4 separate regions of the Homo sapiens genome follow, and regions 2, 3 and 4 are each linked to region 1. The links come from fine-mapping of genetic effects on gene expression. A gene starts in region 1. Each other region holds a variant in brackets. All regions are shown on one strand. Distances are between the middles of the regions.

The links. PIP is the estimated chance that this variant, and not a neighbour inherited with it, causes the effect.
Region 2: its variant is fine-mapped to the expression of AK9 in whole blood (INTERVAL, PIP above 0.99).
Region 3: its variant is fine-mapped to the expression of AK9 in whole blood (TOPMed, PIP above 0.99). The same link has a PIP of 0.9 or more in lymphoblastoid cells, nucleus accumbens and prefrontal cortex.
Region 4: its variant is fine-mapped to the expression of AK9 in whole blood (TOPMed, PIP 0.98).

Annotation. Positions count from the first base shown.
Region 1 is chr6:109,687,531-109,695,635 of GRCh38, forward strand. AK9 (adenylate kinase 9) reads right to left here and starts at 3,672. Exons shown (of 41, transcript NM_001145128.3): 1 at 3,617-3,672. FIG4 (FIG4 phosphoinositide 5-phosphatase) reads left to right here and starts at 3,766. Exons shown (of 23, transcript NM_014845.6): 1 at 3,766-3,971. The coding sequence starts at 3,906. RefSeq lists an enhancer at 3,250-3,719.
Region 2 is chr6:109,568,304-109,576,412 of GRCh38, forward strand. It overlaps AK9 (adenylate kinase 9), which reads right to left. Exons shown (of 41, transcript NM_001145128.3): 21 at 5,139-5,291. Among named protein-coding and RNA genes, the nearest start is that of ZBTB24-DT, 89 kb to the left of the region's middle. The variant A/T (reference allele first, on the strand shown) is at 3,186.
Region 3 is chr6:109,631,164-109,639,272 of GRCh38, forward strand. AK9 (adenylate kinase 9) reads right to left here. Exons shown (of 41, transcript NM_001145128.3): 11 at 2,021-2,160; 12 at 1,760-1,940. Among named protein-coding and RNA genes, the nearest start is that of AK9, 56 kb to the right of the region's middle. The variant C/T (reference allele first, on the strand shown) is at 3,684.
Region 4 is chr6:109,483,150-109,491,237 of GRCh38, forward strand. ZBTB24 (zinc finger and BTB domain containing 24) reads right to left here and starts at 70. Exons shown (of 7, transcript NM_014797.3): 1 at 1-70. ZBTB24-DT (ZBTB24 divergent transcript) reads left to right here and starts at 495. Exons shown (of 4, transcript NR_187591.1): 1 at 495-1,688; 2 at 4,787-4,910. RefSeq lists silencers at 1-50, 131-570 and an enhancer at 7,458-8,088. The variant G/C (reference allele first, on the strand shown) is at 4,088.

The sequences.
Region 1 (8,105 bases):
ACGTGATGAGGAAGAGTGGGTGGCATGTGAGTGCAGCCCCTGCCAACAGCTGGTAAGAAAACAGTGACCTCAGTCCTACAACCACAAAACGATGATGCTTGCCAACAATGTGAATCAGCTTGGGAGTGGATTCTTCCCTAGTCAAGTCTCCAGATGGAAGCACATCTCAGCCAACACCAGATTGCAGCCTTGTAAAACCCTGAGCAGAGGACCCAGGTGAGTGATGCCAGGGCTCCTGGCCATGGAAACCGTGCGATCACAAATGTGTGTTGTTTTAAGCTGCTAAATTTGCAGTAATTTGCTATGCAGCATAGAAAACTAATGTAAGTGGATGTAAAATACATAGATATTTGTATCTCAGAAAGCATCCACCTCAGAAGAGGCACTGAAAAAACCAGGTGGACAGGATAATTTATCCAGTAGACATGAGCCAATCTTTGCTTCTGGTCACCTCAATGCTTGCATAATGGGTTTGTAAATGAAGTAGGCATGGTGGCAGGGATGAAGGTGATGAAGGATAGGCATGGGCTCATATCAAGGCCTCCTTTCACCAGGCTGGTTTAGCTACACTACTGCTGCTGAATGTTCTACCTGTTCATGGCAGAGACCTGTTCATATTAAGCCCTCAATACGGTACAACCCCTTTAGGAGACAAAACATTCATTCAGTGACAAATTGATTACAAATTGAGACCTGTTCATATTGAGCCCTCAATATGGTACAACCCCTTTAGGAGACAAAACATTCATTCAGTGACAAATTGATTACACAGGACCCCTTCACCTTTAAAGGGGCAAGTGACAAATGCTCCTAATATGGGCTTGTTTTTCCTACCTGCAGTGCCTTGGCCAGCACCACTACCTAAAGGTTTAGAGTATGTCTCATTTATCTTCATGAGATCTCATATACCATTGCCTTGGATCAGAGGACCCTTTTTACAATACCACTTTACCTAGAAGCTACTGGTTTGACAGAATGTTGGAATGGTCTCTTAAAGGCACAGCTAAGGCGCTAGCTTGGGATTGTGTGGGATTGAGACAATGTACTTCAAGATGAGGAACATGCTTTGAATCAAGGGCTGGAAGTAGGAGTGACCCCTCTCACTAATACTCTCAGTGATTGACTTGGGAAATTTGCACCTCACTTCTGGACAAGAGGTCCTGGGTCTGGTGGAGGGGAGAGATGGTTCTATCAGGGGACCCAGTAAAGGTTTCATTAAATCTTAAAACTACTGCTGCCACCTGGTCATTTTTGACTCCAAAAGCTCATAAGGAGTTATTGCACTGGCAGATGGAGATAGGGTTGCTGCTATGTGATTGGATGAGATTGGGGGTGCTCAGGGTGGTATGGCCATAAACTGCTAGATAAGTGGGATAGGGGATGCATTTCTTGAACTCAGGGGATTCTCTGAGACAGCTCTTGATGCTTTCATGTCCAGTGAATGGGTAATTGCAGCAACCAAAACCTTACAATGACACAGTAACCAAGGGCTTATGCTCCTCAGGGATGAAAGCTTGTTATCCTACTGGGCAAACACAGACCAGCAGAAGTGTTGGCCAAGAGTAAGGAAAATCTAGAATGATGTTAGAGGAAGGAGATGATCAATTAGAGACCTCAGATTAATTGCAGTAGTGGATTCTGCAGCTTGTCCCATTAATCTTTTTTTTTGTAAGTCCTTTTCTTTTAAAAATTGAGACTAGCCACTACCTTAAAGAATTAGGGTGGCATGGTGTGAACTTGATGTGGAGGAAGAATGGATACGAGTGCTGCAAAGGGTGGAATGTAGCAGCTGCTATTAGTGCCTCCCCCATATCCACTTGACATACACCTTTTCTATGCACGACCAGCCCAACTTCCAAAATGTTAGCATGTGCGACTTTTTGCCTAAGGGCTTTCTCTGGCTGCCAGAACCTACTCTCCCTGAACACAGGGTAGACTGGAAGTTCTAGGGCATCAATGTTCTGCCCTATCAGGCTTCATCCAATAACTGATGGAAGTTGGCGAATAAATACTCCAGCTTCCTTGCCCCTCAAGAGGGGATAACTGAGACATGCCTCCCAGTATTCCCTAGTGAATTCAGCCCACAGAGAAATTTCTCTGGTAATATTTCCTTTATTAGTTTTCTTCCCCTCCCTGCTGCTGTTTCCTGGGATTACGTCTCATATAAACAACCTGCCTTCAAAGTTTTGTCTTAGGATCTGATTCCGGGTGAAATAAACTAAGATAAAGTTAAAATGGAAGTGCTAAACTATAATAATTGAAAACTAGAATCCTTCAGGTATTTTAAGAGTTGCTATCCTAGATAAAAACACTGTGCAAACATTTAACTAATATTCAGAAGAGTTGGTTTCATTATGAAACAGAACACAGCTAACTATTTTTCCCAGTTAAAAGATCCAAGTCCAAAATGCCAGAACGGACACGGCCATCCTTCTAGTTCTTAATAAAAGGAGTACCAAACTACAGGGGGAAAGAAGCGCAAAATAACATAGACTTAAGTATTTCTTTACAATTTTTGTAATTTCTCAAATTTTAATTTACAATATGATCTTTGGTATTACATGAATGTTATCTGGGTATGCTATAATTCTATAATTTTTTTTTAAAGTTTCCTTACACTTAGCAGTTGAGAAGCCCTCTAGCAGAGGTTTCTGAGGTTTAGAGGTTTCCTGGGAAACCTAGAATTGCCGCCTAAGATAGGATAGCTGCCTCTCCCCTACATCTTATACTCTTGCAGTAGGTGTTCAGTAAATATTTGTGGAATAAATACTTCAGTCGTTGAAAGGAGACGTGGTTTTAAAAAGTGGATTTACAAAGAGACCGTTTTGCAAGAAAAGAAGCTGGTCTGGGGGTCCCCGCAGGAGGCGGGGTTCCGTGCAACAGATACCAAGATGCCTCCAGGGCGGACCACGACCCAGCGGGCCGCCGGAAGGCTCCTTACCTGGCCGCAGCCGGACCCTCCTCAGGGAAGCAACTGCCTCCAGGGACTCCGCGGGGCTGTCGGGCGGTTGCCGGGGAGACCTCTGGCCGCCACGCACCTGCTGCTTGGTGGGGCGGGGCCTCGAGAGGCGGGGCTGTAGTTCTTTGTCATTTCTTTTCCAATTCGAAATAGTCACTTTTGTACCTAATTTGGCATTTATAATTATAATACACTCATTTTCACAACTATGGAAGAGAGGGTACGCGCATGCCCATTTATGTCGCACACATGAAATGAAGAAACCTCATTTCAAGCGCGGCTCCGCCACACTGCGCTAGTCTCTGTCGACAACTTCAAGTGGCTAGCCTCACGCACAAACGTGTGGCAAAGCCACACTTTCCAGCTTTAGGTGATTTTAAAACAATTTCTTGGGCCACACAGCGTAGGTACAACATGGATTAGAGGTGAGGGGAAAACTGACACTCAGTGAAGGACCGTCAGAGGGCCGGCTTCCAGGAAAATGGGCCGCAGCAGGCAGGGAAAACACAAGGATCTATCCTGCAACTCGGAGAACCCTTTTCAAAAGAAGCTACCCAATCCCAAACCTTCCGCTTTTTTCCAAAGAGAGGGAGGAGATAAATAGACTCAATTAATCCGTCGACTTTTTCTCCGCCCATGTTTTCCTCCAATCCTTACCAAAGATGGTGCCCTTCGCTTCCTCTCTCGGCAGCACGCAGGTCCCGGGAGCCTCTACCCGACCTCTCTATGATACGTCCTCCAGCCCCGCTCCCGACGTGAGGGGCGGGGCTTGCCTGGAGGCGGGGCGCAGGGATCCGGAAACACCTGATCATCTATAGGTTTAGTGCCTAATGGGTGTTGTTCCTGGCTGGACTTGATGTCCAGGGCCTGAGGGGTTTTCTCGCCGAGTCTCCTGGGGCGGTCCGGAGGCTCGTGCCCTGTTGTGGGGCCCCCATTTGCCGCCGCCATGCCCACGGCCGCCGCCCCCATCATCAGCTCGGTCCAGAAGCTGGTTCTGTATGAGACTAGAGCTGTGAGTACCCCCTCGCGGCGGGGCGCAGGCGGGAGGATGGATGTCTGCCGGTGGGTGTGGGGCCGTAGGACAGAGGCTGTACTCTGCCTCCTCCTCCTTCCTCTCCAGTTCCCAAATCCCTGTCAAACACAGCCTTGGGGTAAGCTAGCTCCCTTGAGCTGTGCCTGGGCGCCTTTCCCCTATTTTGGTACCCTGGACATTGCAGCATTTGCAGGTCCACTTACAAGCCATGGCTGGAACACGCTGGAAACAGGTGCTTGTGGTACCTCAGGAACTGTTCATGAGGTTCTCTGTACGAGTTACTGGATTCTTTTCAGCTTTCAGAAAGTCTGTTAAAGTTCTAGAGTTCACAAGTTACAGTACAGGCAGGGGTATGAAAAAAATTTGAACTATGACTTGTAACTTATTTTTTCCTATTCCATGGTATACCATCACTGCGATTCATGTGAATTACACTTCTATTGGTGAACTTTTTGGTTCTCTTTTTTTCTTATTTGAAAGGAAAGGAAAACTTACTTTGTTTAAAGACAGATAATTTGTTTGGATAACATCTTGCTTTTCACTTGACTTTTTTCAACATAACATTTACTTTTAAAATTTTATTACTTTGAATGGCCATGTAAATAGTGAATAAGCAGATCAGTTTGTATTTCGATTACCAGTTCCTCAATTAAGGGAGAATGGTGTTTATATAACTTCATACTTGGTCCTTTCTGTGGGTGGAAAGCAAAGTTGGTACAGTATAGCTCTTCTAAATTGGGGTGCCACAGTGATATTAGGGACTGTGTTTAATATTACCCATTTCATGCTAACAAGATTGCATATGCCAGATATTTTCATAATGCTCTTCACTATGTTATAGAGTGCTTTATAAACTGTTTCTCTGAAACTTGGGTTGTCTCCATTAGAGGAGTATGAGAAGGCATTTAACAGTTTCTCAGTTATAACGTAGTCCTAATAGCACAATAACCTCTCCCTCAGGTTAACATGAGTAGAGAATTGTGGACCTTAAATTAATTTTGCTGACAACTTTGATTAGATCTAGAGCAGAAAATGACATTATCAAATATACTGTATTTGCAAGTATTTTCAGTTCTCTAATGAGACCCATAAAGAAGTATCATTTGTCATTGAAATGAAACCTATTTTCTGTAAAATATGCTGCTAAATTTCCCTCATTAGAAACATAAATAACTTTTTTTTTTTTCCCTTTGAGACAGAGTCTTGCTCTGTCACCCAGGCCGGAGTGCAGTGGTGCTATCTCGGCTCACTCACTGCAACCTCTGCTTCCCAGGTTCAAGAAGTTCTCGCACCCCAGCCTCCCAAGTAGCTAGGATTACAGGAATGTGACACCATGACCGGCTAATTCTTGTGTTTTTAATAAAAGACAGGGATTCTCCATGTTGGCCAGGCTGGTCTAAAACTCCTGGCTTCAGCCTCCCAAAGTGTTGGGATTACAGGCATGAGCCACCGCATCTGGCCGTAAATAAAACACAAATTTCAGCCCATTAAAAAGCTGATCACTCATGAGGACTGCGTGAGATATTAGTGTTCAGAAAGCACAATTCATATTATAGGGCTCTTCTGCTCAGAAATCTTCAGTGGTCCCAATTCTGAAGCAAGTAAACTCTGAATCCCTTAGTTGGCATTCAAAGCCATGTATTATTTGTCCTCAACTTGTCTATCTAGTTTTACATCTAATTTAATATCAATTAATGAAACATTTATTGAGGATCAACCATGTGCCTTCATATGCCTTATTCTGCAGTAAAACTGTATTGCTTTCAGTTCCCTATATCTGCCCTGTGTTTTTCTGCTGTTCTCTATTCTCTTAATGCCACACCCCCTCTTTTCCTGTCAAAACCTTGCTGATCCTCACAGCACATATCTGGTCATGCCTTGCAAACAGTAGTCTCTCAATAGATGTGGATTAAGGAGCTCTAACACAAAGAGATAGAGGTGTGTTCCAGAACTCAGCTGTGACCCCTCTCAACTGCCTAAGTAATGGAAACTAACTCTGGCCAGCTTAGAGACAAAAGGTAAATTTATCAGAGGGATGCTAGGGGAGCCATTGCATGGTATCCAGCTTCTGGAAAAGCAGGAAAGAGATAACAGGTTTGAGAACCCTCTCAGAGTACTGCCAAAAACAGTGTAGGTGCTGGGAGAAAAAATCTGATCGACTCAACTATGATTGGTTATCATCCCCTGAGTGGACAAATCATTCATGGCCAGGGGGGGTCTGGCAGGAATGATTTAGCTGTGGAATCAGGATCCTCTTTGTTTCAGCAAATGGTTGGGGCTGGGCAACCACCCTTGAAAATGTCTGCTGCATTGAATCACTGAGTCTCGGTTTTGTTAAATAATTTTTTTTTTTTGGTTAAAGATATAAGCAGAAAGGTTTTGTTTTGTTTTGTTTTGTTTTTACTAATAAGCTCAAAGTATAAATAAATAAGAAAAAGGCATAAAATTACAGGCAACTGGATAAATGCTATGAATTAAAAAAACAAAAACTGTAGTAGGTTGTAATAATGAGGATAATAGCTCAAAATATTCTACATATATTTTATTATTTAATCCTCATAAGACCTCTAAGAGATCATGCTGTTAATTCTACTACTATATATATTATTTAGTAAAGAAAAAAAATGAGGCAAAGATAATTTAAGGCAGTTACTTAACCCATTTATGCCAGAGGTTGCAAATTTTTTTGTGTGAAAAATCAGACCTTTGCGATGACCTTGAGCAGTAGGATATAAATAACTCCCACAAGCTTAGCGTTCCAATAACGGAACACTAGGCATAAGGTGTGGTGCAGGTGCTAAGAATGTATACTGGGGAAAGGACAGTCTCTTCAATAAATGGTGTTGAGAAAACTGGATATCCATGTGCAGAATGAAATAAGGCCCTTCTCTCTTGCCATATCCACAGATCAACTTAAAATGGATTAAAGGCTTAAGTGCAAGACCCAAAACTGTAAAACTACCAGAAGAAAACATAGGGGAAATGCTTCAGGATATTGGTCTAGGCAAAGATTTTATGAGTAAGACTTTAAAAGCACAGGGAACAAACCCAAAAATAGACAAATGGGACTATATCAAGCTGAATAGCTTCTGCACAGCAAAAGAAACAATCAACAGAGTGAAGAGGCAACCTATAGAATGGAGAAAATATTTGCAAACTCTTCATCCAAGAAGGGACTAATATCCAGAATATATGAGGAATTCAACAACTCAACAGCAAATACCCCCAGATAATCCAATTAAAAATGGGCAAGGATCTGAGTAGACATTTCTCAAAAGAAGATATACAAATGGCCAACAGGTATATGAAAAATTACTCAAGGTCACTAATTATCAGGGAAATGCAAATTAAAACCACAGTGAGATATCATGTCACCTCAGTTAAAATGGCTATTTTCAAAAGGACAAAAATTATCAAATGCTGGTGAGGATATGGAGAAAGGGAATTCTTATATAGTATTGGTGGTAATGTAAATTAGTATAGCCATTATAGAAAACAGTATGGAGGTTCCTCAAAAAACTAAAAATCCGGCAGTCCCACTACTGGGTGTGTATATGAGGGGATTTCAAAAAGTTCATGGGAAAATGGAATTAAAAGATAAAAATAACAAATGTAAACTTTATTTCTCAAGCTAACTTCCGTCAAGGTCAAGACATTTTTGTAACTAATGATACCAGCCATTTAATTCATCCACAAAGAACCGAGGGTCCTGGGAATTTAACCATATTGGTGCAGTCTTTTTTACTCTGTTAACTAAAGAAAAATGGGTGCCCTTTAAGGATTCTTTTTAAGATGAGGAAACAAAAAGAAGTCAGAAGGAGCAAAATTGGAACTGTAAGGCAGATGCCTAATTATTTTCCATTGAAACTCTTGCAGAATTCCCATGTTTGATGAGAGGAATGAGCAGCAGCATTGTTGTGGTGGAGAAGGACTCTGTGATGGAGCTTCCTGGGTATTTTTCTGCTAAAGTGTTGGCTGACTCTCTCAAAACACTCTCATAATAAGCAGATACTGTTCTTTAGCTTTCCAGAAAGTCAACGAGCAAAATGCAGTGAATACACACACACACACACACACAGACACACACACACACACACACACAATGTTGCCATG
Region 2 (8,109 bases), 120 kb before region 1:
AAACCCACAGCCAATATCATACTGAATGGGCAAAAACTGGAAGCATTCGCTTTGAAAACTGGCACAAGACAGGGATGCCCTCTCTCACCACTCCTATTCAACATAGTGTTGGAAGTTCTGGCCAGGGAAATCAGGCAAGATAAAGAAATAAAGGGTATTCAATTAGGAAAAGAGGAAGTCAAATTGTCCCTGTTTGCAAATGACATGATTGTATATTTAGAAAACCCCATCGTCTCAGCCCAAAATCTCCTTAAGCTGATAAACAACTTCAGCAAAGTCTCAGGATACAAAATCAATGTGCAAAAATCACACGCATTCCTATACACCAATAACAGACAAACAGAGAGCCAAATCATGAGTGAACTCTCAATCACAATTGCTTCAAAGAGAATAAAATACCTAGGAATCCAACTTACAAGGGATGTGAAGGACCTCTTCAAGGAGAACTACAAACCACTGTTCAATGAAATAAAAGGGGATTCAAACAAATGGGAGAACATTCCATGCTCATGGATAGGAAGAATCAATATTGTGAAAATGGCCATACTGCCCAAAGTAATTTATAGATTCAATGCCATCCCCATCAAGCTACCAATGACTTTCTTCATAGAATTGGAAAAAACTACTTTAAAGTTCATATGCAATGAAAAAAGAGCCCGTATTGCCAAGACAATCCTAAGCCAAAAGAACAAAGTGGGAGGCATCATCCTACCTGACTTCAAACTATGCTACAAGGCTACAGTAACCAAAACAGTATGGTACTGGTACCAAAACAGAGATATAGACCAGTGGAACAGAATAGAGCCCCTGGAAATAATACCACACATCTACAACCATCTGATCTTTGACAAACCTGACAAAAACAAGAAATGGGGAAAGGATTCCCTATTTAATAAATGGTGCTGGGAAAACTGGCTAGCCATATGTAGAAAGCTAAAACTGGATCCCTTCCTTACATCTTATACAAAAATTAATTCAAGATGGATTAAAGACTTAAATGTTAGACCTAAAACCATAAAAACCCTAGAAACAAACCTAGGCAATACCATTCAGGACATAGACATGGGCAAGGACTTCATGACTAAAATACCAAAAGCAATGGCAACAAAAGCCAAACTTGACAAATGGATCTAATTAAACTAAGGAGGTTCTGCCCAGCAAAAGAAACTACCATCAGAGTGAACAGGCAACCTACAGAATGGGAGAAAATTTTTGCAATCTACCCATCTGACAAAGGGCTAGTATCCAGAATCCACAAAGAACTTAAACAAATTTACAAGAAAAAATCGAACAACCCCATCAAAAAGTGGGCAAAGGATATGAACAGACACTTCTCAAAAGAAGACATTTCTGCAGCCAACAGACCCATGAAAAAATGCTCATTATTACTGGCCGTCAGAGAAATGCAAATCAAAACCACGATGAGATACCATCTCACACCAGTTAGAATGGCAATCATTAAAAAGTCAGGAAACAACAGGTGCTGGAGAGGATGTGGAGAAATAGGAATGCTTTTACACTGTTGGTGGGACTGTAAACTAGTTCAACCATTGTGGAAGACAATGGGGCGATTCCTCAAGGATCTAGAACTAGAAATACCATTTGACCCAGCCATCCCATTACTGGGCACATACCCAAAGGATTACAAATCATGCTGCTATAAAGACACATGCACACGTATGTTTATTGTTGCACTATTCACAATAGCAAAGACTTGGAACCAACCCAAATGTCCATCAATGATAGACTGAATTAAGAAAATGTTGCACATATACACCATGGAATACTATGCAGCCATTAAAAAGGATGAGCTCATGTGCTTTGTAGGGACATGGATGAAGCTGGAAACCATCATTCTCAGCAAACTATCACAAGGATAGAAAACCAAACACTGCATGTTTTCACTCATAGGTGGAAATTGAACAATGAGAACACTTGGACACATGGTTGGGAGCATCACACACTGGAGCCTGTCGTGGGGTGGGGGAAGGGGGGAGGGATAGCATTAGGAGGTATACCTAATGTAATGACGAGTTAACGGGTGCAGCACACCAACATGGCACATGTATACACATGTAACAAACCTGCATGTTGTGCACATGTACCCTCTATAGAACTTAAAGTATAATAATAATAAAAAAAAGAAAAACCACCTATAGAATACAACATGCACTATTTGAGTGATAGGTATGCTAAAACCCCAGACTTCACCACTATATGTGATTCATCCATGTAACCAAAACCCACTTGTACCCCTAAAACTACTGAAATAAAAAAATTTTTTAATGCATTAGGAGAGAGGCAATAAGGTGGAGAAGGTAAACCAGTGACATGGAGGATAACAAGTCTCTGAAGAATCCAGAGAAAAAGTACAAAGAGATGAGAACTATCAGGAAAAAGAAGATTAACGTGGTTGAGAAACAATAGTTATCTGACCAAAAATAATAAATGATCCTGAAAAAGGAATCTGAAGCAATAACTGAAGAAAGGCATTTTGAGCTAGACAAAGATTGTGATATGAAGACAAGAAGAGCTCAATGAATTCCCGGGTAAATCATTCACATACCAGCAAAGTTTTAACAAATAATGGCATTGAAAAGGATCCTTTGAGCACCCCTGTAGGAAAAGAACGAAAAGAACAGAAATGAGGGAATATCTTGACTTTTCCATGTGTAGAAGACAATGAAGCAATGTCAACATGAGGAATTCTGAGAAGAAAAGGTTATGACAATGATTTAATAGCCTCTAAGTTGTTTTATATATGTGAAAGCAATAGATTTGCAGAAAAATTACAAAATATGCCACGCTGGATCCTTAAAAAGTTGCTCAAAGATGTAGACCAGATGACTAAGAGATGAATCAAAATTAAAATCTCAAGAATAGGGTCATGTGGAATTTGGGAGAAATCCAAATGGAATTATCATTATCCTAATACCACATAGCTACAGAAATCCACAGCCTGTTCTAGTGGACTGGACAAAACTGGCCACACTCATGAGCATTCAACAATGTGGAGAAGTTATGCCTCTTTCCAAAATGCTATCTGAAGGAAGTTTATAAACAAATAATTTCCATATAGTTATTGTTTATTGAAAATAACTCTCTTGTAGGACTTTAAAAATGTCCGAGAGGAAACCTTTCTCTCAAGCCGAAGTCTAATTGGATCACAGTTAGATAAAAACAAA[A/T]CAAAACACCATTCTTAAAAAAGCTAAAAGGAAATACATTAGAATGTTAAGTATCATTGCCTTTTGTTGTCAGATCAATGATGATTTCCCCCATCTTTCTATTTGTATAATTTCTGTATTTTCTATAGTTAGCACATATTTTTATCAAACCTGGATGGATGTATGATTTTGAAACACACCGTTCAACATCAACTGTATCAAAACTACGATCACTGTCTTTAATAGACATTTTTCAAATTTCTATTCAATATATTCATTAATTTTGACCTGCAGATACAGTGTACAGCCAAATGATTCTAGAGTTTTTATTTTCAGGATCAGATTTTTCTCAGGTATGCTACTGTGCTTTTTCCATGATATAAGGAATAATTGACAAAACTTATTTTTCAGGCAGAATGTTTTTCCTATAGCAGTAGTTCTCAACTGTTAGTATGTATAAGAATCACTGGGGTGTTCATTAAAATGTAGATTCCTAAATTCCATCCTAGACTTACTGAACCAGAGCCTGCATAGAGCTCAGAGGCTTACCTTAAAATAAGAACCATAGGTGATTCTGATACAGCTGATCTACCACCTATACTATGAAACAATATTTCTCTTTTATGTGAAACTCTAAAGTCTCAGTTAAGCATTTAAGAATTTGAGCAGATGATTACTTATTTCTTGGGTGAAATAATGAATGTGCGCCTAGGCATTCCTGCAACCTGCATCTGTGGAAAGGCAGTATGGTAGATACTGTTGGTTGGCTCCCTCAACCCCCCTCTCGTCTTCTATTCCATTGGCTTCTACCATCTAGGCAAGGAAGCCAAGTCCAAATTAAATTCCCAGATTCCCTGCAAGTAGGGGTAGATGACGATACAATATTCTGCTCAATGAAATGTAGGTGAAAGTCTCTGTGAACTATCTATTTCTTGAATTAGAAATAAAAAGTAAAAGCTTGCAAGAGGAGACATTGTGTCTGGATGCAGCAGCCACCTATGGATCGTGAGGATGGAGTCAGATACTGGAGAGAAGTACAGGAGGAAAGAAGATGCTTGGGGCTTCAATATCTTTTTAAGTGAACAAACCAGCCTGGGGCTCTTAGATATGCATAATACTTAATATACTTGTCAGAATGAAACACATGCACATATGAGCTGTGAAATATGAATTGTGTAATTTTCATTAATTTCCCTTAGTCTTGCTTCTTTTATAAGCTCACAGCAGTTCCAGGCCCTTAACTGCTCCAGACTAGCATCCAGTTACAGGTATCTGAAGACCTTTTAGTTTGTAGGATGAATTTCAGATTCAATACTAACTCTGCTTGAAAGCATTTGCAAGCCTCATTCCCACCACAGGTGGGTACCCTATGTTCCTGCTTTAAGCCCACTCTCTAGTCCTTGGAGTGGTTTTCATTGCCTATAGACTCCTTCTTGCCTTGCCCCATCCACCAAATGAGACCTCTGAGGTAGGGCTTAAAGAGTTAATGCTCTCATATTAACATTTAAAATGCTCTTATATTTGCATTTAAAAATGGCATTGCACACCATAAAGATGAACTGTAAAATTCATGCTAATAATTTAAAATTTTAATTTAATTTTTCTTTACTTAGAGCAACATTAAATAGCAAACAAAAAAATAGCATGACAAATTGAGAGACAGACTATGGAAGAAAGGAAAAACCGTTATATTTTACTACCTTTAATGACACTTTTTTCCTGCTTTTTGAACAACATGCCCCACAAATTACATAGCCAGCTGTGCTCCTGTGTGCCAGTGCTGGGGCAGAGCAGCCTCTGCTTTCCTACCACACTTCAAACTGTGGGATTTGGACTCAATGGCTGCTCTCTGGGGGCTCATCTCTCCATTCTCAGCCAGCTTCCATTTTACCAACAGGTATACATACACATACCCAAACAGACACATTAATGCACATGAGTAGAATTAAGAACTTGCTATCAATAAAGTCTAACCTGCTTCAGGCTCAGTTTCAGGGACCTCAGATGCTTCAAACTCCTCAGGTAACCATGACCCTCGGGTATCGTGAGATGCCTCAGGCTCTTCGTGAACTTCCAACTCATCACCTTCAATCTCCTCTTCATCCTCATTATCAGTCTCTTCAGCTTCTAAAAAAATTTGAAGAAATAAATTATCATTTGGTTGAAGTCAACAAATATTTATTGGGTGTTGATAAGTGCTGAAGCCAAACAAAGAATATGAAATGGTCCCTGCCCTCCTAGAGTATGTAGTTTAATGGGGGAGATAGAAAAATTATCTATTTATTATAGCTATTCACATGTAGTGGTAAAGGATGATAGTCATCTGCTCAGAGTTCTGTATGAGTACCAGACTAGGGGTTCATTCAAAAATGAAATGTTTGTGGCAGTTCCAAACATCCTTACAGTAAATCTAGAAATAGCCCAATGTCCAAAGAAATGGCTACATCAGCACCATTCAATATAGTAGCCACTAGCTACATGTGGCTATTGAGTACTTGAAATGAGGCTAGTCCAAATTGATATATACTGTAAGTATAAAACATACAGTGAATTTTAAAGATTTAATATGAAAAACTAAATATAAAATATGTGACTTTTAGAAAATTTAAAGTTCCATGTGTGGCTTATATTATGTTTCTAATGGGTAGCACCAGGTTAGATTATATATATAATGATTGATTTTCTTACAGCTAACTAAAAATAATAAATCATGTAGTATATTAATCAATATATTAAATGTAAATACAAAATACAAAAATTAGCTGGGTGTGGTGGCACACACCTGTAGCCCCAGCTACTCAGGAGGCTTAGCAGGAGAATCGCTTGAACCCAGGAGGTGGAGGTTGCAGTGAGCTGAGATTGTGTCACTGCACTCCAGCCTGGGTCATGGAATGAGACTCTGGCTCAAAACAAACAAACAAACAAACAACCCAGAACTAGTAGCCGGTTTAATAACTACCACAATTTTGGAACAGTGATAAACATATAAAGATATGTAAAACTATAATGTGATATGAAAACATCTTCATTTCTTTTGGTGACAAAGTCAAAGTATTGCTAATATTATTGTGGTTTGTTGCCTATATTAATTGCACATTGAAGGAAATAATAAATTTCAGTTAAATGTTAGTGAAAATAAATTCGGAATTATTTTCCAATTAAGTTCACACACCCCTGAATTTTACCCATAGACCCTAGGTTAAGAACTCCAGTCTTTTTTTTAACATCTGTCTTATCTTTTTAAAATTTTTTTATTCCAAAAGTTTTTGAGGAACAGGTGGTGTTTTGTTCCATGGAAAAGTTCTTTGGTGGTGATTTCTGAGGTTTTGGTACACCTATCATCCAAGCACTATACACTGTACCCAATGTGTAGTCTTTTATTCCTCATCTCCCTCCCACCTTCCCTGCAAATTCCCGAAGTCTATTATATCATTCTTATGCCTTTGTGCCCTCATAGTTTAGCTCTCACTTATAAGTGAGAACATACAATGTTTGGTTTTCTATTCCTGAGTTACCTCACTTAGAATAATGGTCTCCAACTCCATCCAGGTTGCTGCAAAAACCATTATTTCATTCCTTTTTATGGCTCAGTAGTATTCCATGGAATATATATATATCACATGTTCTTTATCCACTCGGTTGATGGCATTTAGGCTTGTGCTGCTATAAACGTGTGTGTGCAAGTGTCTTTTTCAAACAATGATTTCTTTTCCTATGGGTAGATACCCAGTAGTGGAATTGCTGGATCAAATGGCAGTTTTATTTTTAGTTCTTTAAGGAATTGCCATAGTGTTTTCCATAGTGTTGTACTGGTTTACATTCCCACAAGCAGTGTAAAACTGTTTCCCTTTCATCACATCCATGCCAACATCTATTATTTTTTGATTTTTTAATTATGGCCATTCTTACAGGAGTAAGGTGGTATGTCACTATGGTTTTGATTTGCATTTCCCTGATAATTAGTGATGTTGAGCATTTTTTCATATATTCGCTGGCCATTTGTATATCTTCTTTTGAGAACTGTCTATTCATGTTCTTAACCCACTTTCTGATGGGATTATTATTTTTTTTTCTTGCTGATTTGAGTTCCTTTTAGATTCTGGATATTAGTCCTTTGTCAGATGCGTAGTTTGTGAAGATTTTCTCCCACTCTGTGGGTTGTCTGTTTACTCTGCTGATTATTTCTTTTGCTGTGCAGAAGATTTTTAGTTTAATTAAGTCACATCTATTTGTCTTTTTGTTTTTGGGTTCTTGGGCATGAACTCTTTGCCTAAGCCAATGTCTATAATAGTTTTTTGATGTTATCTTCTAGAATTTTTATGGTTTCAGGTCTTAGATTTAAGTCCTTGATCCATCTTCAGTTGATTTCTGAATAAGGTGAGAGACAAAGATCCAGCTTCATTCTTCATTGTGGCTTGCCAATTATCCCAGCACCATTTGTTGAATAGGGTGTCCTTTCTCCATTTTATGTTTTGTTTGTTTGTTTTTTTCTTTGTCGAAGATCAGTTGGCTGTAAATATTTGACTGTATTTCTGGGTTCTCTATTCTGTTCCATTGGTCTATGTGCCAATTTTTATAGCAGTACCATGCTGTTTTGGTAACTATATCCTTGAAGTATAGTTTGAAGTTGGGTAATGTGATGCCTATAGATTTGTTCTTTTTGCTTAGTCTTCCTTGGCTATGTGGGATCTTTTTGTGTTCCATTTGAATTTTAGGATTTTTTTTCTAGTTCTGTGAAGAATAATGATGGTATTTTGATGGGAATTGCATTGGATTTGTAGATTGCTTTTGGCAGTATGGTTATTTTCACATGCTCATGGATTCTACCCATCCATGAGCATGGGATGTGTTTTCATTTGTTTGTGTCATTCATGATTTCTTTCAGCAGTGTTTTGTAGTTTTCCTTGTAGAGATCTTTCACCTCCTTGGTTAGGTGTATATACAT
Region 3 (8,109 bases), 56 kb before region 1:
TAATGATAACAGACAAGGTTGATAAATCATTCCTCATTGAAACAAAGAACTTCTGTTTATTAAAAGATGCCATTAGAAAAGTGAAATGGCAAACCACAGAGAGACAGAGAATAGTCCTAATGCTTATAATCAACAGATAACTTGTATATAGATAATATTAGGAACTCTTACTAATAATATACAAAAACACAACTAAAAATGGGCAAAACACTTGAGAAAACACTTCAAAAAGAGAATATTTAAATGGTCAGTAAACAGATGAAAGAGGTTCAACCTCATTAGTCATTAGGGAAATGCAAATTAAAACCACAGTGAGATACTATTATACACTCACTAAAATGGCTAGAATTAGAAAGACCGACCATAGTAAGAGTTGACAGGAATGTGGAATAACAGAACTCTCATATACTCCTGATAGTATTGTGAAATAATGGAACTACTTTGGAAAACAATTTGGCATTATCTACACAAGTTGAACATATGTCCATGTGTGCACCAAGAGACACATACAAGAATGTTTATAGTAGTGTTATTTACTCCAATCTGGAATCAATCCAAGTTTTATTAGTGCTCAAATGTGGATAAATACATTATGGTATAAGTCAATCAACAGAATACAATAAAACAATAAAAATGAATAAACTACAGCTACATTCAATAGTCTGGACAAATATCATAATTATAATGTTAAGTGAAAGAAGCCAGGCACAAAGAAGATAAATTGTTTAGGTCTATAAAATTCAAAAAAACCATGCAAAACTAGCCTATGGTATTTGGATGTATGCTTCCACGGCAAAACCATAGGAGAAGTATGGAAGTGAATGCCATAAAATTCTGGGCAGTGGTTACCTTTGTGTGGAGAGTGAGGAGACTGGTATTGAGAAGAAACATGAGAGGGCGTCTGGGTGCTGGCAACATTCCAGATTTGACCTGGTTGGTGGTTACATGGGGGTTCATTTTGCGGTAACTCAGTGGGCTTCACTTTTCTGTATGTTTGTCATGTTTCACAATGAAAAAGTTAAAAGCAAATAGAAAATGATACTCCGGCGCTTAAAAGAATGCAACAGCACTTTGAACAACTTCTAACACCTTTCTGTGGCCTGAATTGCTCTGTCTTTAGCCATGATCTTGTGCCATTCCTTCTTGCATAGGCAATCCTCAAGCCACATTGCCCCTTCTAGAATTCCTCCACATTCCAATCCCTCATCAAATCTTTCAGCTTTGTCTTCAAATTATATCCCAAATATGCTTGTTTCATACCACTTTTACTGCTATCACTCTTGTCTAAGCTAAAAATAATTTCATTTACTGAGAGTGGAGAACAAGATTACTGAGGGAGGTGTCAAGGTGTTGGGAGGATCATCTTTGTAATACTGAAATCACCAAGAATTAGGACAGGAGTGATTATATGGGGAGAGTGAGAGTGAGCCAGGAGAAGTGAAACCCAGGGGACAGAAGATGAGTAGAACCAAGAAAGCTAATAGGTGGCAGAGTCTGAATGACACGATATTCACATGTGGGAGCTTTTGGGAAGCAGGGAGGGACTCTGGTCTGGAAGCAGCAATAAACAACAAAAAGAATGCCTACCCTACCCCAAGCCCAGTGGAACAATTATTCAATTAAAACATGAAATTTTAAAAACTGAGTACAAATAAAATCCTACAAATTATAATCGAGTATAGATACATGACAGATAGACATAGATAGATAGATAGATAGATAGATAGATAGATAGATAGACAGATAGTTAGTTAGTCACCTTTCCTTTGTAATTTTCTGCAAGCATATTGCAAAGTGTTGTTTTCCCTGAATATTGAGGTCCAAGTATGAATACTTTACATGGTGGTCCTGGCATAGGTGGAAGCAGATAGGGACGTGGGTTCAACAAAAATGGTTTTAATGCTTCTTCTGATGAAAGACAGTAGATTTTACCTAGAAAACTTAAAATATGCCATATTAGTAAACAACTGAAAAGATGTATGAGGAAGATTTAAAATTAAGTTCTGAAAATCTTACTTACCTCACAGAATAATCTGGTAATCCTGAATAAATGTTACCATCTTTTAAATTCACAGGACATGTACGTCCCCATTTACTTCTTTGCCATCTGTATCTTGGTGCAATAAGTTTATAAGATGCAAGAGTACGAAATAGCTCATCCTGTGAATTGCAAATACTACATTAAAAATATGGGCATAAATTTTGCTGAAATTAGGAGCATTAAATATTTCATTTATCATTTTATAGTGCTTTACTATTTAAGAAATAATTTAAAAAGGAAATTTTGGCTTTTTTCTTAATTGCAACATCCTGCACTTGTCCTTGATTTAATAAGACAGTGTAGAACTAGTTTGAACTAGTTGAAAATTACAGGACCCTTGTTTTACAAAGAACTAGTTTACATTTATGTTAAAAAATCTTTAAATTCTACTGAGCAATTTCTATCATATGGTAAAATAAGCATAAGGTAGATAGCGCATTTTCTATCATCTTCCTTAGAAAACAGATTCTGAAAAATTCTTATTAAAAATTTTGGAAAATGTACCAGATTCTTAGCTAATTTACCTTGGCTTTCACATATACCTAAGATGTTATGTACAGATTGTTTTTGCATTTACTTAGCTATAAGCAGTTCTTTAATTCTTAAAATTTAAAGTCTCCTTCATCAGCAATCCTTTCTGTTGGTGACCTCCAGATAAGTTAAGAAATACTTTTCTACAGACTGCAAAATTCTGTAGAAAACTGCTAATTCTCAGTTGGGAACATGCTTATTTTATTTTATATTTATGCTTACTTAACCATATGATAGAAAGGTTGCTTGAAAGGTTCATCTGTCCTTGTGGTTCCTTACCAGGGGATGAGAAAACTGGTGAGAGATGGCATGGTGAGTATTATGGTTTGAATGTCCCCTCCAAAACTCAGGTTGAAATTTAATTGCCATTGTGATGGTATTAAGAGGTAGGACTGTTAAGAGGTGATTAGGTCACGAGTGCTCCGCCCTCATGAATAGATTAATGTCCTTATCTCAGGAGTGGGTAAGTTATTTTGAGAGTGGACTTATTATAAAGGCAAGTTAACCCCTCTTGCCCTGGCTCTGGCTCTTGCACTCTTTTGTTCTTCCACCTTCCACAATGGGAAACACAGCACAAAGGCCCTCACCGGATGCCAGTGCCATGCACTTGGACTTCCCAGGCTCCAAATAAACTTATTTCTGTGAACCAAATGAACTTATTTTCTTTATAAATTACCTAGTCTGCGGTATTCTGCTATAGCAAAAGAAAATGAAGAGAGTGGGCAATGGCGAGGGGAAAACTGCTCCCCCCAACCCTCAGATGTGGGTCACACATGATATATGCTTGCTTCAGAGTTGACTATGCAATGCAGATGAGATTGTGAGCTATGATCTTCCATGGACCACTGCAGCATCAGAGAACAAAGAGGCATGTGCACTGCAGGGATACTGCATGAATGTTCCCAAGTGAGAGCTGGAAGTGATAGTAAATATTAAGGAAACTGTCAATGCTTAGGAGAGTTGTATAAGACTGAGAACCTCATCCATGGAGCACATTAAGCTACAGGCCTTCTCCACAGGGTTCCTGGACAATGAGCTAGGGACTGAAACCATGCCCAGTTAGGTCAGGAGGCAGTCTCTCTTTCCTTATCATCCATATTTCCCACCCATA[C/T]ATGAAAAAAGTATTTGAATAGACCATAAGTATTCTCTAAAAGGTTAAGTATTTGAATAGCAGACCATGTTCCTCTCTCAACTTCATGCCCATGGGGCCACACGTTCAGCAGGTGCCGAAGGGAGAAGAGAAGATGAGCTTTTGAATGAATTTGATATTACAGGCTTAAAAATGATCAGGACTGGCTTCTGGTTAAACAAAGCAGACTGAAAACATGAATTTATGTTTGCTGCTTCCTAAAACCTCACTAAAATGACAGTAGAAGAATAAAAAAAAAAGAAATAAACTCATGAGGACGCAGAGAATGGGAGAAGAGACTAGAGGTGCTGATCAAGGCTGACAGCTCACCAGTTACAGCTACACAGTTTTGTAAGTTAGAAAGCAGATGGATGAGTGGTAACTGACTTATATCAGAGATAGGTGAAAGCTAAATATCTGTAGAGCAAAGATAGGTATGGGAGGGGTAAGAACAACAAGGAGTCAGTGGATTCACTTTGCAAAACCCTGGAAAGACATGGGACCTTGTGATACCAGGTACCTCTGAAGGGGAATGAATGGAGAGCAGAAAACAGTGTAACTGGTTGGAAATCTTTGAAAGAAGGTGCTAGTGCCAGAGCCACTCCTACTCCACTTGGTCCCCTCCCACCACTTCTCTCCCAGTGAGAAGACCAGAAGCATACTTTCTGGAGCCACTTAACCAGAGGAGCATGTGAGGGACCCCAGACACAGCCAAGGTAGCGGGGCAGGGGCAGAAGAAAGTTGGCCACTATAACCACTACCCTCAAGCTCTACTCCTACCCATCCTCTTGCTGAAGAAACTCTGGACCTTTCCATGGTCCAGCAACTAAGGGTTAATGCCTGGCAAATGTCTTCAGCACTTCTGCCAGCTCTGTTGTGATTGGGTGAATGCTCTTGCACCACAAAAACTAATTTGCCAGGGCCAGAACAAAATGAAAATTACAGGACCCTTGTTCTACAATTATTAAGAATTTCAGGACTGCAGCAGCAGAGTATTAAACTAAGCACATGGTCCTGTGTGAAGTTCATGAAGCCAACCCTGCCCCTGCAATGCAGCTGTTAAATTTTTAAAATATCACCATTGGTTCTAGGCACTTTAAAAGCATAATCTCATGTAATCTTTACAATAATACGATGCCATAGGGATTGTTGCTCCTTTTTTAATATATACCATTGAATAAAGGGCAGCAAGGTTAAGCAGAGTCACAGGTCTGATAGGCTGTACCGCTGAATTCAAATCCAGGTCTGTGTGACTCGAAAGCCAAAATTTTTACTGTGCTAGGTGCCAGTCTGACCCTGTCCTTCCTCCTACTGCACAAACCCATGCCCATGTCCTCATCTACCTGCACAGCCCCTCCTCTCCTGCAACTCAGCAGATGCTATAGCTCTCTCACTCTTCACCAGGGAGCTGGAGTCTACAGTAAGGTCTCTGTGGCTTTCCTACCCCTTTAAACCAGTGGTTCTCTTCCTGAGCTGCATAGTAGAATCTCCTAGGGAAGATTTTTGGGTTTATTTTTTGTTTTTTTAATTGTGGCAAAATACACATCCCATAAAATTTGTTTTTGTAACCACCTTTAAGCATACAATTCAGTGGTATTAAGTATATTCACTGTGTTGTGCAACCACCACCTCTATTCATTTCCAGAACTTTTCCATCATCCCAAACAGAACTCTGTACTCATGAAATAACTCTCCTTCCCCCCAGCCCCTGGTAACCTCTATCCTACATTCTGTCTCTATGAATTTGTCTATTCTGTGTATCTCGTATAAGTGGAATCATATGTTTGCCCTTTTGTATCTGCTTGTTTCACTTAGTATGTTTTCATGGATCATATTTTATCATATATAAGAATTTTACTCCTCTTTAAGGTTGAATAATATTCCATCACACACACACACACACACACACACACACACACCACATTTTATCAGTTCATCCATTGATGGACATTGGGTTATCTCCACCTTCTGGCTATTGTGAATAGAGGTGCTATAAATATTGGTGTACAAGTATCTGTTTGAGTTCCTGGTTTCAATCCTTTGGGGGAAATGCCTAGAAGTGTAATTGCTGGATAGATGAGAATTCTATGTTTAACTTTTTTAGCAACCACCAAACTATTTTAAACAGCAGCTGTACCATTTTACATCCCCACAAACAATGCAAGAGGGTTCTCATTTCTCCTCATCAACATTTGTTATTTCTCATTTTTTGAATAATAGCACCCCAATGGATATGAGATGGCATCTCATTGCAGTTTTGATTTGCATTTCCTTAATGGCTAGTGATATTGAGCATCTTTTCATGTACTTACTGGCTATTTATATATCTTCTTTAGAGAAATGTCTATTCAAATCCTTTGCCCATTTTTGAACTGGATTTTTTTACTGCTGTGGAGTTGTAGTTGTTCTTTACATATTCTGCATAGTAATCCCTATCAGATATGTGATTTTCAAATATTCTTCTCCTTTCTGTGGGTTGTCTTTTTACTCTATTGATTGATGTGTTTTCCTTTTTTTTTGTAGAGATGGGGTTTTACCATGTTGGCCAGGCTGGTCTCAAACTCCTGGCCTCAAGTGATCTGCCTGCCTCAGACTCCCAAAGTACTAGGATTACAGGCATAAGCCACCATGCCCGGCTTCTACTGATAGTGCTGATGCAGAAAAGTTTTTTTGTATTTTTCTTTTGTAGTCTCTGCCTTTGATGTCATATCCTATTTTGTTTTGTTTCACTTAATGACAGAGCCCTACCCTAGAAATTCTGTTTTAACTGGCCTGGGCATTGTAATGTTTAAAAAGCTTCCTAGATGACCCCATTTTGCAGTCAGGGCTGGGACCCACTGCTTTAAATATTTCCATTATATTGATTCTCTAAAAATCACCTGCCTTTAGCTGAAGATTATTCATCTAAAGTCCTTTAAAAACACAAGAACTTGTATATTAATCAACTTTAATTGACCAGGCTCCTTTGGTGTCCCAAGAGTTAAAGCAGTGGTTCTCAGACTTAAGTGGGCATAGGAATTTGTTCTAGATTTTGTAAAAATACATTTTCAGGTTCCATCTCCAGATAGTCTGGTTCAATCAGTCTGGGATTTGGGCCTCAGGGATTTGTGTTTGTAGTAAGCTTCCCAGGTGATTCTTTTGGAGGTGGTCTGGACTGCCAGGTAGAAATGCTGCTTAAGGGATATGAATAATGACTCCAGCATACACAGCCACATCTTCCCTTTTATGAAAAAGGAGGCAGGTTCACCTAGTCATACAGCTTATGAACTACAACCTTACACCTATGCCCCATGCATGCAATGCTTTCTAAGGACAAACTTTCTGGCTCAGAAATTTCCTGCAGGTTTTATAGATACTTTTTCTCTTTCCTTCATTGATGACCTAGAACAGGAGGCCTCAGTACTCAGTTTATTTTTCCCAGCCTCTGTTCTGACCAAGCCCACTTTTCTTCCTCTTCAGCACCAGTTCATATTGCAGGGGTCCCAGCACATATCCCAGTTATGTTGACCCACTGAGATCTTGTTATGATACAGGATAACAAAATGACCTCTTTCTTCAAAGATTTTAAAATTTGAATTATGTCTATTTATGATCCTGGCATATGTTTTTGTTTTTTATTTTATTTTTATTTTTGAGACAGGGTCTTGCTTTATCACGCAGGCTGGAGTGCAAGTGGCACAATCATGGCTCACTGCAGCCTCAACCTCTAGGCTCAGCTGATCCCCCCACCTCAGCCTCTCAAGTAGCTGGGACGATGGGCATGTGCTATCACGTCTGGTTAATTTTTTAAAAAAATTTTAATTATACTTCAAGTTCTAGGGTACATGTGCACAATGTGCAGGTTTTTTACATAGGTATACATATGCCATGGTGGTCTGATGCACCCATCAACTTGTCATTTACATTAGGTATTTCTCCTAATGCTATCCCTCCCCCAGATCCCCACCCCACGACAGGCCATGTTGTGTGATGTTCCCCGCCCTGTGTCCAAATGTTCTCATTGTTCAATTCCCACCTATGAGTGAGAACATGCAGTGTTTGGTTTTCTGTCCTTGCCATAGTTTGCTGACAATGATTGTTTCCAGTTTCATCCATGTCCCTGCAAAGGACATGAACTCATCCTTTTTTATGGCTGCATAGTATTCCATGGTGTATATGTGCCACATTTTCTTAATCCAGTCTATCATTGATGGACATTTGGGTTGGTTCCAAGTCTTTGTAATTGTGAATAGTGCTGCAATAAACATAGGCGTGCATGTGTCCTTATAGTAGCCTGATTTCTAATCCTTTGGGTATATACCCAGTAATGGGATCTCTGGGTCAAATGATATTTCTAGTTCTAGATCCCTGAGGAATCACCGCACTGTCTTCCACAATGGTTGAACTAATCTACACTCCCACCAACGGT
Region 4 (8,088 bases), 200 kb before region 1:
CCCGCCCGCCTCTGGGGCTTCTGCGCCGCACCGGTTTCTGCTCCTGCGCCGCCGCCGCAGCCACAGCCACAGCCAACCCGGAAGCGCGGCGCCAAGAGCCGCTTGCGCGCGGACGCCGAACCACGTGGCCCGCAGAGGCGCCCCTGGAGGTGGGGGCCACGAGAGCGGCGGGGAGGGGAAGGGAGGTGAGGGGCGGGGCGGGGCGAGATGGCGGGGCGGGGCGGGGCGGGGCAAGGCGGGGCAAGGCAGGGCAAGGCGGGGCGCGAAGGCAGTTCAAGGGTTGGGGCGTGGCAGGGGAGGGGAGGGGCAAGGCGGGGCGAGAATGCAGGCCTGGGGTCGGGGGAGCCGCGGCGGGGCGGGGCAGGGCGGGGCGAGATGGCAGGCCCGGGGCTTTGGGGCCGGGGCCGGGGCCGGGGCCGGGGCAGGGCGGGGAGGGGCGCGGCTTCGGAGGAGGGACAGTGGCCGGGGCGGGGCGCGGCCAGGGGCGGGGCGGTGTCGGCGCCCGAGGTCCTGCGTGTGGCACTGCCGGGGAGCCCAGGCAGGAGCGACTTTTGCGGTGAATTGGGGGCAATGGACAGGAGAGGCGTTGTGACCCCTCCCTTTGGGAAGTTTTATATCGTATTAAACTGTTAGCTCAACGCCAATACCTTAATTTTATCTCTTCTCCGACACCGAATCTGGTGTTGTTCTTGAATGTATAAAGGCATGAAATCCCCCTTACCGTCATCATCATTGTCATCATCATCACCATCGTCATTATCTAGTGCTAATATAATAACTATTACTTACCTCCTAAATGTTTTTCACATCTGCCTCCTTTTCCTCCCCACTCCTGATGCCTTAGTCTAAGGGAATGAAGAGAGCACTGCAGTCAGAGAAACCTGGGTTCTGAGAGATCTTGGGCAAATTACTTACCCTCACAACTTCTTTACCTTACCTGTAAAATGGAGATGTTAACACTAGTGCCACTTTGGTAGGGTTGCTATTGCATAAACAAAATTAAGTATGTAATGGGCTTAGGAAATGCCTGGTTTAATTCGTCTGCTGTGATTAAAATGATCATTATTATTCAAACTTTCATCATCTTTGTTCAATAGACTGTTTCTAACTGGTCTCAGCTGCAGCGTTGTTCTCTTTAATTCGCAGAAGTACAGAGGATTTCTCCAAGTACATATGAGATCCAGAGACTAGAGTCACTCCTTGGCTTAGAATCCATGTGGCTCCCACATGCCCTCTGGATAAAGTCCAGGCTTCTTAATGTGGTCTACAAGCCCCATCCAGATCTACTCCCCACCTGCTTCCATCCATTTATTTCAGCATTTTCTCTCTCTTAGCCAATACCTAATTACTTATTTTTCTGCCCATTTCCAGATTCCCAACATGCCATCTATAGCCTCCCTGATCTTGAACCGGAGGTGTAATTAGCAACCTGGCTCTTACATTTTTACTAGATTTTATTAAAACTAGCTCAAGCCACACATGCTCCTTCTCTGAGGTTTCCCTTTCATATTGAATTGTCTCTAAGTCCTCTGGATTTGTGGGGGTACAAGTGGGATGGGGAGCGCTCCCTGACTTCTGCATACCAGCAGGAAGTTAGCTACCTCATTGTTTCTTGCTGCTACGAGGGTTGCAGTCAAATCACTGTCCCTCCAGAGGTCCTCAACGGCATAAGAAGACTCAGTGCCAAGGTAAGCCAGGTACTTCCATTTCCTCATTCAATCATTGCTCACTGGAGCATAATCCTGCGAGGAAAGACTGAGTCTGGAGGATCTTCCAGCATCAGCCACCCACAACACAGACTAGCCCTTTCTTCAAGGCAATTTTGTTTTGGATCCATACTGACTTTTTCAAAACTTTTGTTCTTGTTAAGGCCAGCCGGTCTACCCCTAACAGGTCTTCTTAAATTTAAATCTTGCAGAACAGGATTTGGGGTGTCATACATTCATCTAACAGATATTTATCGAGTGTCTACTAAGAGCCAGACATTGGCGTCAGGTGTTGGGGATACAGCAACTAACAAGGCCTTTGCTCTCATGAAGCTTACATTCTACTAAGGGGAGACAGGACAAATATACAAGTAAACTAATGAATAATAGTTTCAGAAAGTGTTAAATTTTATAAAGAATGATGATGGAGACTGACAGGGAAGTGAAATCAGGATAGGGTGACATTTGAGCTGAGATCTGAATGACATGGAGACAGCTGTGGGAAGATCTGGAATAAAAATGTTCTAGGCAAGGGAAAAGCAAGCATAAAGGCTCAGACTGGGAAGGAGCATCTGATGAACGGCAAGGACTGTGTGGCTGGAGCACAGTGAGTGAGGGGCAGCAGATGGAGTGGAGAGTTGCCAGATTTCACAAATAAAGACACAGGACACCCATTTAAAAAAATAAATGCTGCCTCAGCCTCCCATGCTGGGATTACAGGCATGAGCCACCTATACCCAGCCAACAAAGAATTTTTTTTCATATAAATTTAGTGTAGCTTAGAGCGTACAATGTTTATAACGTCTACAGTAGTGTATAGCCATGTCTTAGGCCTTCACATTCACTCACCACTCACTCACTGACTCACCCAGAGCAACTCCTATTCCTGTAAGCTCCATTCATGGTAAGTGCCCTACACAGGTGTACTTTTTTTTTCTTTTATACTGTTTTGTTTTGAGACAAAATCCCACCCTGTTGCCTAGGCTGGAGTGCAGTGACATGATCTCAGCTCACTGTGACTTCTACCTCCTGGTCTCAGGTGATCCTCCCCACTTAGCCTTCTGAGTAGTTGGGACTGCAGACATATGCTACCACACTCCACTATTTTTTTTTTTCCGTATTTTTTGTAGTGATGAGGTTTTGCCATGTGGCCCAGGCTGGTCTTGAACTCCTGGGCTCAAGTGCTCTGCCCACCTAGGCCTTCCAAAGTGCTAGGATAACAGGCATGAGCCATCAGTATACTGTATTTTAAGTGTCTTTCTTATGTTTTGATATGTTTAGATACAGAAATACCACTGTGCTACAGCTGCTTACAGTATTCAGTACAATAACATTCTGTACAGGTTGGTAGCACAGGAGCAATAGGTTGTACCATAGAGCCTAGGTGTGTAGTAGACTATACCATCTAGGTTTGTGTAAGTTCACTCTGTGATGTTTGCACAGTGACGAAGTCACCTAGTGATGCATTTCTCAGAACATATCCCTGTCATTAAGCAATGCATGACTGTACCTATAAAAGAAAACCAGTTAAAATGACAGCTGGTTTCTCAACAGCAATAGTAGAAGCCAGAGGTTAGTGGCATGATACTTTCAAAATTCACCTAAAATCTTTTTTATAGACTACAATTATCATGGAAAAGGACAAAATCAAGACAATTTTGGTCAAACAAAAAATAAAAGTATTAACCTCCAACAAACCCATACCATAGGAAGGAAAATAACACCAAGAGGAAAGTCTGAGGTATAAGAGGGAGTTGTAAGCCAAAAAAAAAAAAAAAAAGAGAAAAAAGTAAGTATGAAGGAAATCTAAACAAACATTGATTATGCAAAATAATGTCTAATTCGGAGAGTAAACAAATAGAGTAGATCTAAAATATTGAATGAAAATACCATTTAAGATGGGAAGCTGGTTATCAGTATTCCAGTGTTTTAAGGGTACAGCTATTGATTACCTTGAGGCTTTACATATACATGGTGAAAGAGTAAGGGACAGCCACTTAATTGGTACAAATAGAGTGCATACTTCAAACACTGTAGAGGAGATAATGGCATTTCAAAGTTATTGGTCAATGCCAGGTCGGGTGCAGTGGCTCATGCCTGTAATCCCAGCACTTTGGGAGGCCAAGGTGGGCGGATCACTTGAGGCCAGGAGTTCAAGACCAGCATGGCCAACATGGCAAAACCCCGTCTCTACTAAAAATACAAAAATTAGCCGGGCGTGGTGGCACAGCTACTTAGGAAGATGAGGCACGAGAATCTCTTGAACCCGGGAGGCGGAGGTTGCAGTCAGTTGAGATCATGCCACTGCACTCCAGGCTGGGCGACAGAGCAAGGCTCTGTCTCCAAAAATAAAAAATAAAAAAAAATAATAAAAAAAAAGA[G/C]AGAGAGAAAGAGAAGGATGGAGAGAATGTTAAAGGCAAGAAGAGCCAGATCATGTAAAGTCTTTTATGCCAAGAAAAAGGAGTTTCGATTTTAACTGAAATAGGAGGCCACTGGAAGATTATTCAAAAGGACTGTTGAATCTGACTTATGTATTTAAAAATTACTCCAGCTGCTAGATGAAGAGTAGATCCTGGAGGGACATGAGTGGAGGCATGGATATGAGGGTGACAGCAGTGTAAAATGTAAGAAGAGCCCATATTCAAGGTAGATTTGGGGGATAGGTCTTTCTGAGAGGACTTGCTGAGAATAGATGTGCGGAGTGACGGAAACAATGCAATCAAGATTGACTCCTGGGTTTGGGGCTAAATCAACAGAGTGTACGGTGTTACCATTAACTGATCTGGAAGAAGAGAAGTTGGGTTGGATAACAAGTATGGGGTGGACATATTAAATTTGAAATGTTAACTAGATAACCAAGTACAGTAGGCAGTCATAGGTAACAATCTGGAGTTCAGAGCTGAGAACAGAATTGAGATATTAATAATGGAGTTATCAGAGCATAGATTATAAATTGTTGTAAGTAAGATCAGTTACAGAGTGAATATTGATAAAAGGCGATCCAGATTTTTTCTCTTTCCTCTCCAAATGTAGTCTCCATTCTTCTCTCCTTTTTTTTTTTTTTTTTTTGGCCCTGGGAGGCTACAGGGACTCAAGGACTTCATCATCAAAGTCCTGTGCCGGCTAGCTTCCAGTTGTATTGAGTCAATGGAGAATCTGGCAGATTGGAGGAAGGAGAAGGTCATGATCATCTGGCAATTAAAGGTTAGTGGAAGTCCTTTGTCATGATGAAGGGCATCAAAAATATGTGTGTAGCCTGGGATGGTTGGTTGATAACTGTGGCTGGAAGGAACTATAGTCCAAGGCTTATTATGACTTAAAGGGATTTGGGGAGAACAGAAGGACAATTGTCAATGTTCAGTGCCAATAGTGCATCTTTAGAGGGATTTTATAGCACTAATCCAGTAGTGCTCCAATTTCCAGATCCCATGTGTCCTGTACTACACAAGGGCAGGGCATGTATCTGCTTATATTTTAATCTCCTACTGTACACAGACTGGTAGAATTCTTGTAAATATACACATGCTTGCATATGCTAAGCAGTCTTCAACATGCGTCTCACAGGTTTGGTGAATACGTGTGCTCACAAATTAATTCTTGGAATGTTTTTCACCCCCTGGTTATAATCTCAAATTTGACTTATTTTTTTAAAATTTTACCTGCTTTGATTTTAAAAAGTCCATTTAATTCAGGTGTCACTCCCTCTGATAATTCTTCCCAGAACCACCCATAGTTAAGGGCTCTCAGGCTTTGTAGCTTGATATTCTTTAACCCGGATCTTCATTTGTAAAAGTAAGAACAAACCAAAAAAAAAAAAAAAAGAAAAAACGAAAAAAAAAAATCACCCACAACTAGACAAAGGCGTTCATGTGTAAAATATATCTCTCATTCCTATCCTGTTCTTTCCGTTTTTTTTTTGTTTTTTTTTTTTTGAGACGGAGTCTTGCTCTGTTGCCCAGGCTGGAGTGCAGTGGCCTGATCTCGGCTCACCGCAACCTCCGCCTCCCGGGTTCAAGCGATTTTCCTGCCTCAGCCTCCCGAGTAGCTGGGACTTCAGGTGTGCGCCACCATGCCCAGCTAATTTTTGTATTTTTAGTAGAGATGGGGGTTTCACTATGTTGGCCAGGCTGGTCTCGAACTCCTGACCTTGTGATCCACTCGCCCTGGCCTCCCAAAGTGCTGGGATTACAGGTGTGAGCCACCGCGCCCAGCCTATCCTGTTCTTGAACTTCCTCCCCTTCATCACTGAATTTGTGAAATTTTAATGAATTGCCTGAATTCAACAAATTACCAAATGAATTGCAAATAAAGTGAAAAATATATAATAAAATTGAGAACGTTTAAAAAATATAGTATTTATTACTGTACTTTGAGTTTTGAAGAATTTAAAACCACAGTTCACACCATATCCTGAAATAAATTCTAGAGGACTTAAAGAATTAAATATATATCTTTATTTTTATTTATTTATTTTTCCTTTTTTTTTTTTTTTTTTTGAAATGGAGTCTCGTTCTGTCGCCCAGGCTAGAGTGCAGTGGCGCGATCTCGGCTCATTGTCAGCTCCGCCTCCCGGGTTCACGCCATTCTCCTGCCTCAGCCTCCCGAGTAGCTGGGACTACAGGCGCCTGCCACCATGCCCGGCTAATTTTTTGTATTTTCAGTAGAGATGGGGTTTCACCGTGTTAGCCAGGATGGTCTCCATCTCCTGACCTCGTGATCCGCCCGTCTTGGCCTCCCAAAGTGCTGGGATCACAGGCGTGAGCCACTGCACCCGGCCAAATATATATTTTTTAAAACACAAATAAGTAAAATAAAACAGAATGGAATATTCCATTTCTAGAGATTGAAGAATTTCCAGAGCTTAGAAGACTATTCAAAATCAGCCTGGCCAACATGGTGAAACCCCATCTCTACTAAAAATACAAAAATTAGCCAGGCATGGTGGTGGGTGCCTGTAATCCCAGCTACTTGGGAGGCTGAGGCAAGAGAATTGCTTGAACCTGGGAGACAGAGGTTGCAGTGAGCTGAGAACACACCACTGCACTCTGGGCGAAAAAGCGAGGTTCCATCTCAAAAAAAAAAAAAAAATTAGAAAGCAATGATGAACATGTTTTATGTTAATACCTAAAAAATGGAATATATGTACTTCAAAAGGTTGATGTCTATATTACATAAAGAACTCATGCAGAACAACTTTTAAACGCTGCATAAGTTAGAGGGCAAAGGATGTGATAATAATTCACAAAAGAGAAAATGCAACTGGTGACCAACATATGCAATAATATACAATCTCACTATTAGTTCAGATTAAAGCAAAAAGGTTCTGCTTTTCACCCATTAAAGAAAAAAAAAATGTGAAGATACTGCCAAGTGATTGTAAAGAAGTATTGAAATTGGTGTTCTTGGGTGCTCCTGGAAGCAGTATAAATTGCTGTAATTATTTTGGAAAGTTGCTTGGTAATATGAATTGTGAATATCCATTTAAGAATAGTCATGCCCTTTAACCCAGCAATTTTATTTCTCAGAATTTATATCAGGCTAATAATCCTAAATATAAGAGGGAAAGATTCAACACAGTATTTTATTTATTTTTAAAATTTTTGTAGAGACATGCCCAGGCTGGTCTCAAACTCCTGAGCTCAAGTGATGCTCCCACCTTGGCCTCCCAAAGTGCTGGCATTACAAGCATGAGCCACTGTGCCCAACCTCAACGTAGTATTTTAAAATTTAGTACAACAGTACACAGTCCAGCAATAGGAATGGTCAAATATAGCGTATCTATTCAGTGTGGATCTGAGTGTAACCGTTAAAAAAAAAAAAAAAAAAAAAAAGGAAAGGAAGTACTCCAAAATCCTTTTCCTACTTTTCCACATTTCATTTACTGTTTGACTTAGGATCTGTCAAATGGAGACTGCTTCTCCTTCTTGGGTGAAGTTATTGTTGCTGTGAAAATGACATCTAGACAAGCCATGGAGAGGCATAGGCTGGTTGGAGTTTCCCTTGCCCTTAAAGCTGCACTGCCTCAGCCTCTTCCTGAAGCAGTCAGGATTGGGGCAGCAGCTGGAGGATGGGGGTGGGCAAAAAGGAGTCTCTCTCAGCCTCAGTGAGCACCGTGGCCTGGCCACCCACTCTGTTATTGTTTCACATAGGGAAGGTTTAAGGGTCCCTGGACACCCATTCAGAATATTCTTTCATCATATTTGGGACGCTAGTTAATGGATTATTTGTAATAATATGCAAGCATAATTTCTAAACAAAAGCAGAATTTCAATAAGAAGCTTTAAAGGATACATGTTCTTATTGCAGAAATGTTGTTCTCCCTTGTTAGGGACACAGACCCCTTGACATGGAAAACACAGCTTGCTCCCCTGAGAAGGAAAGC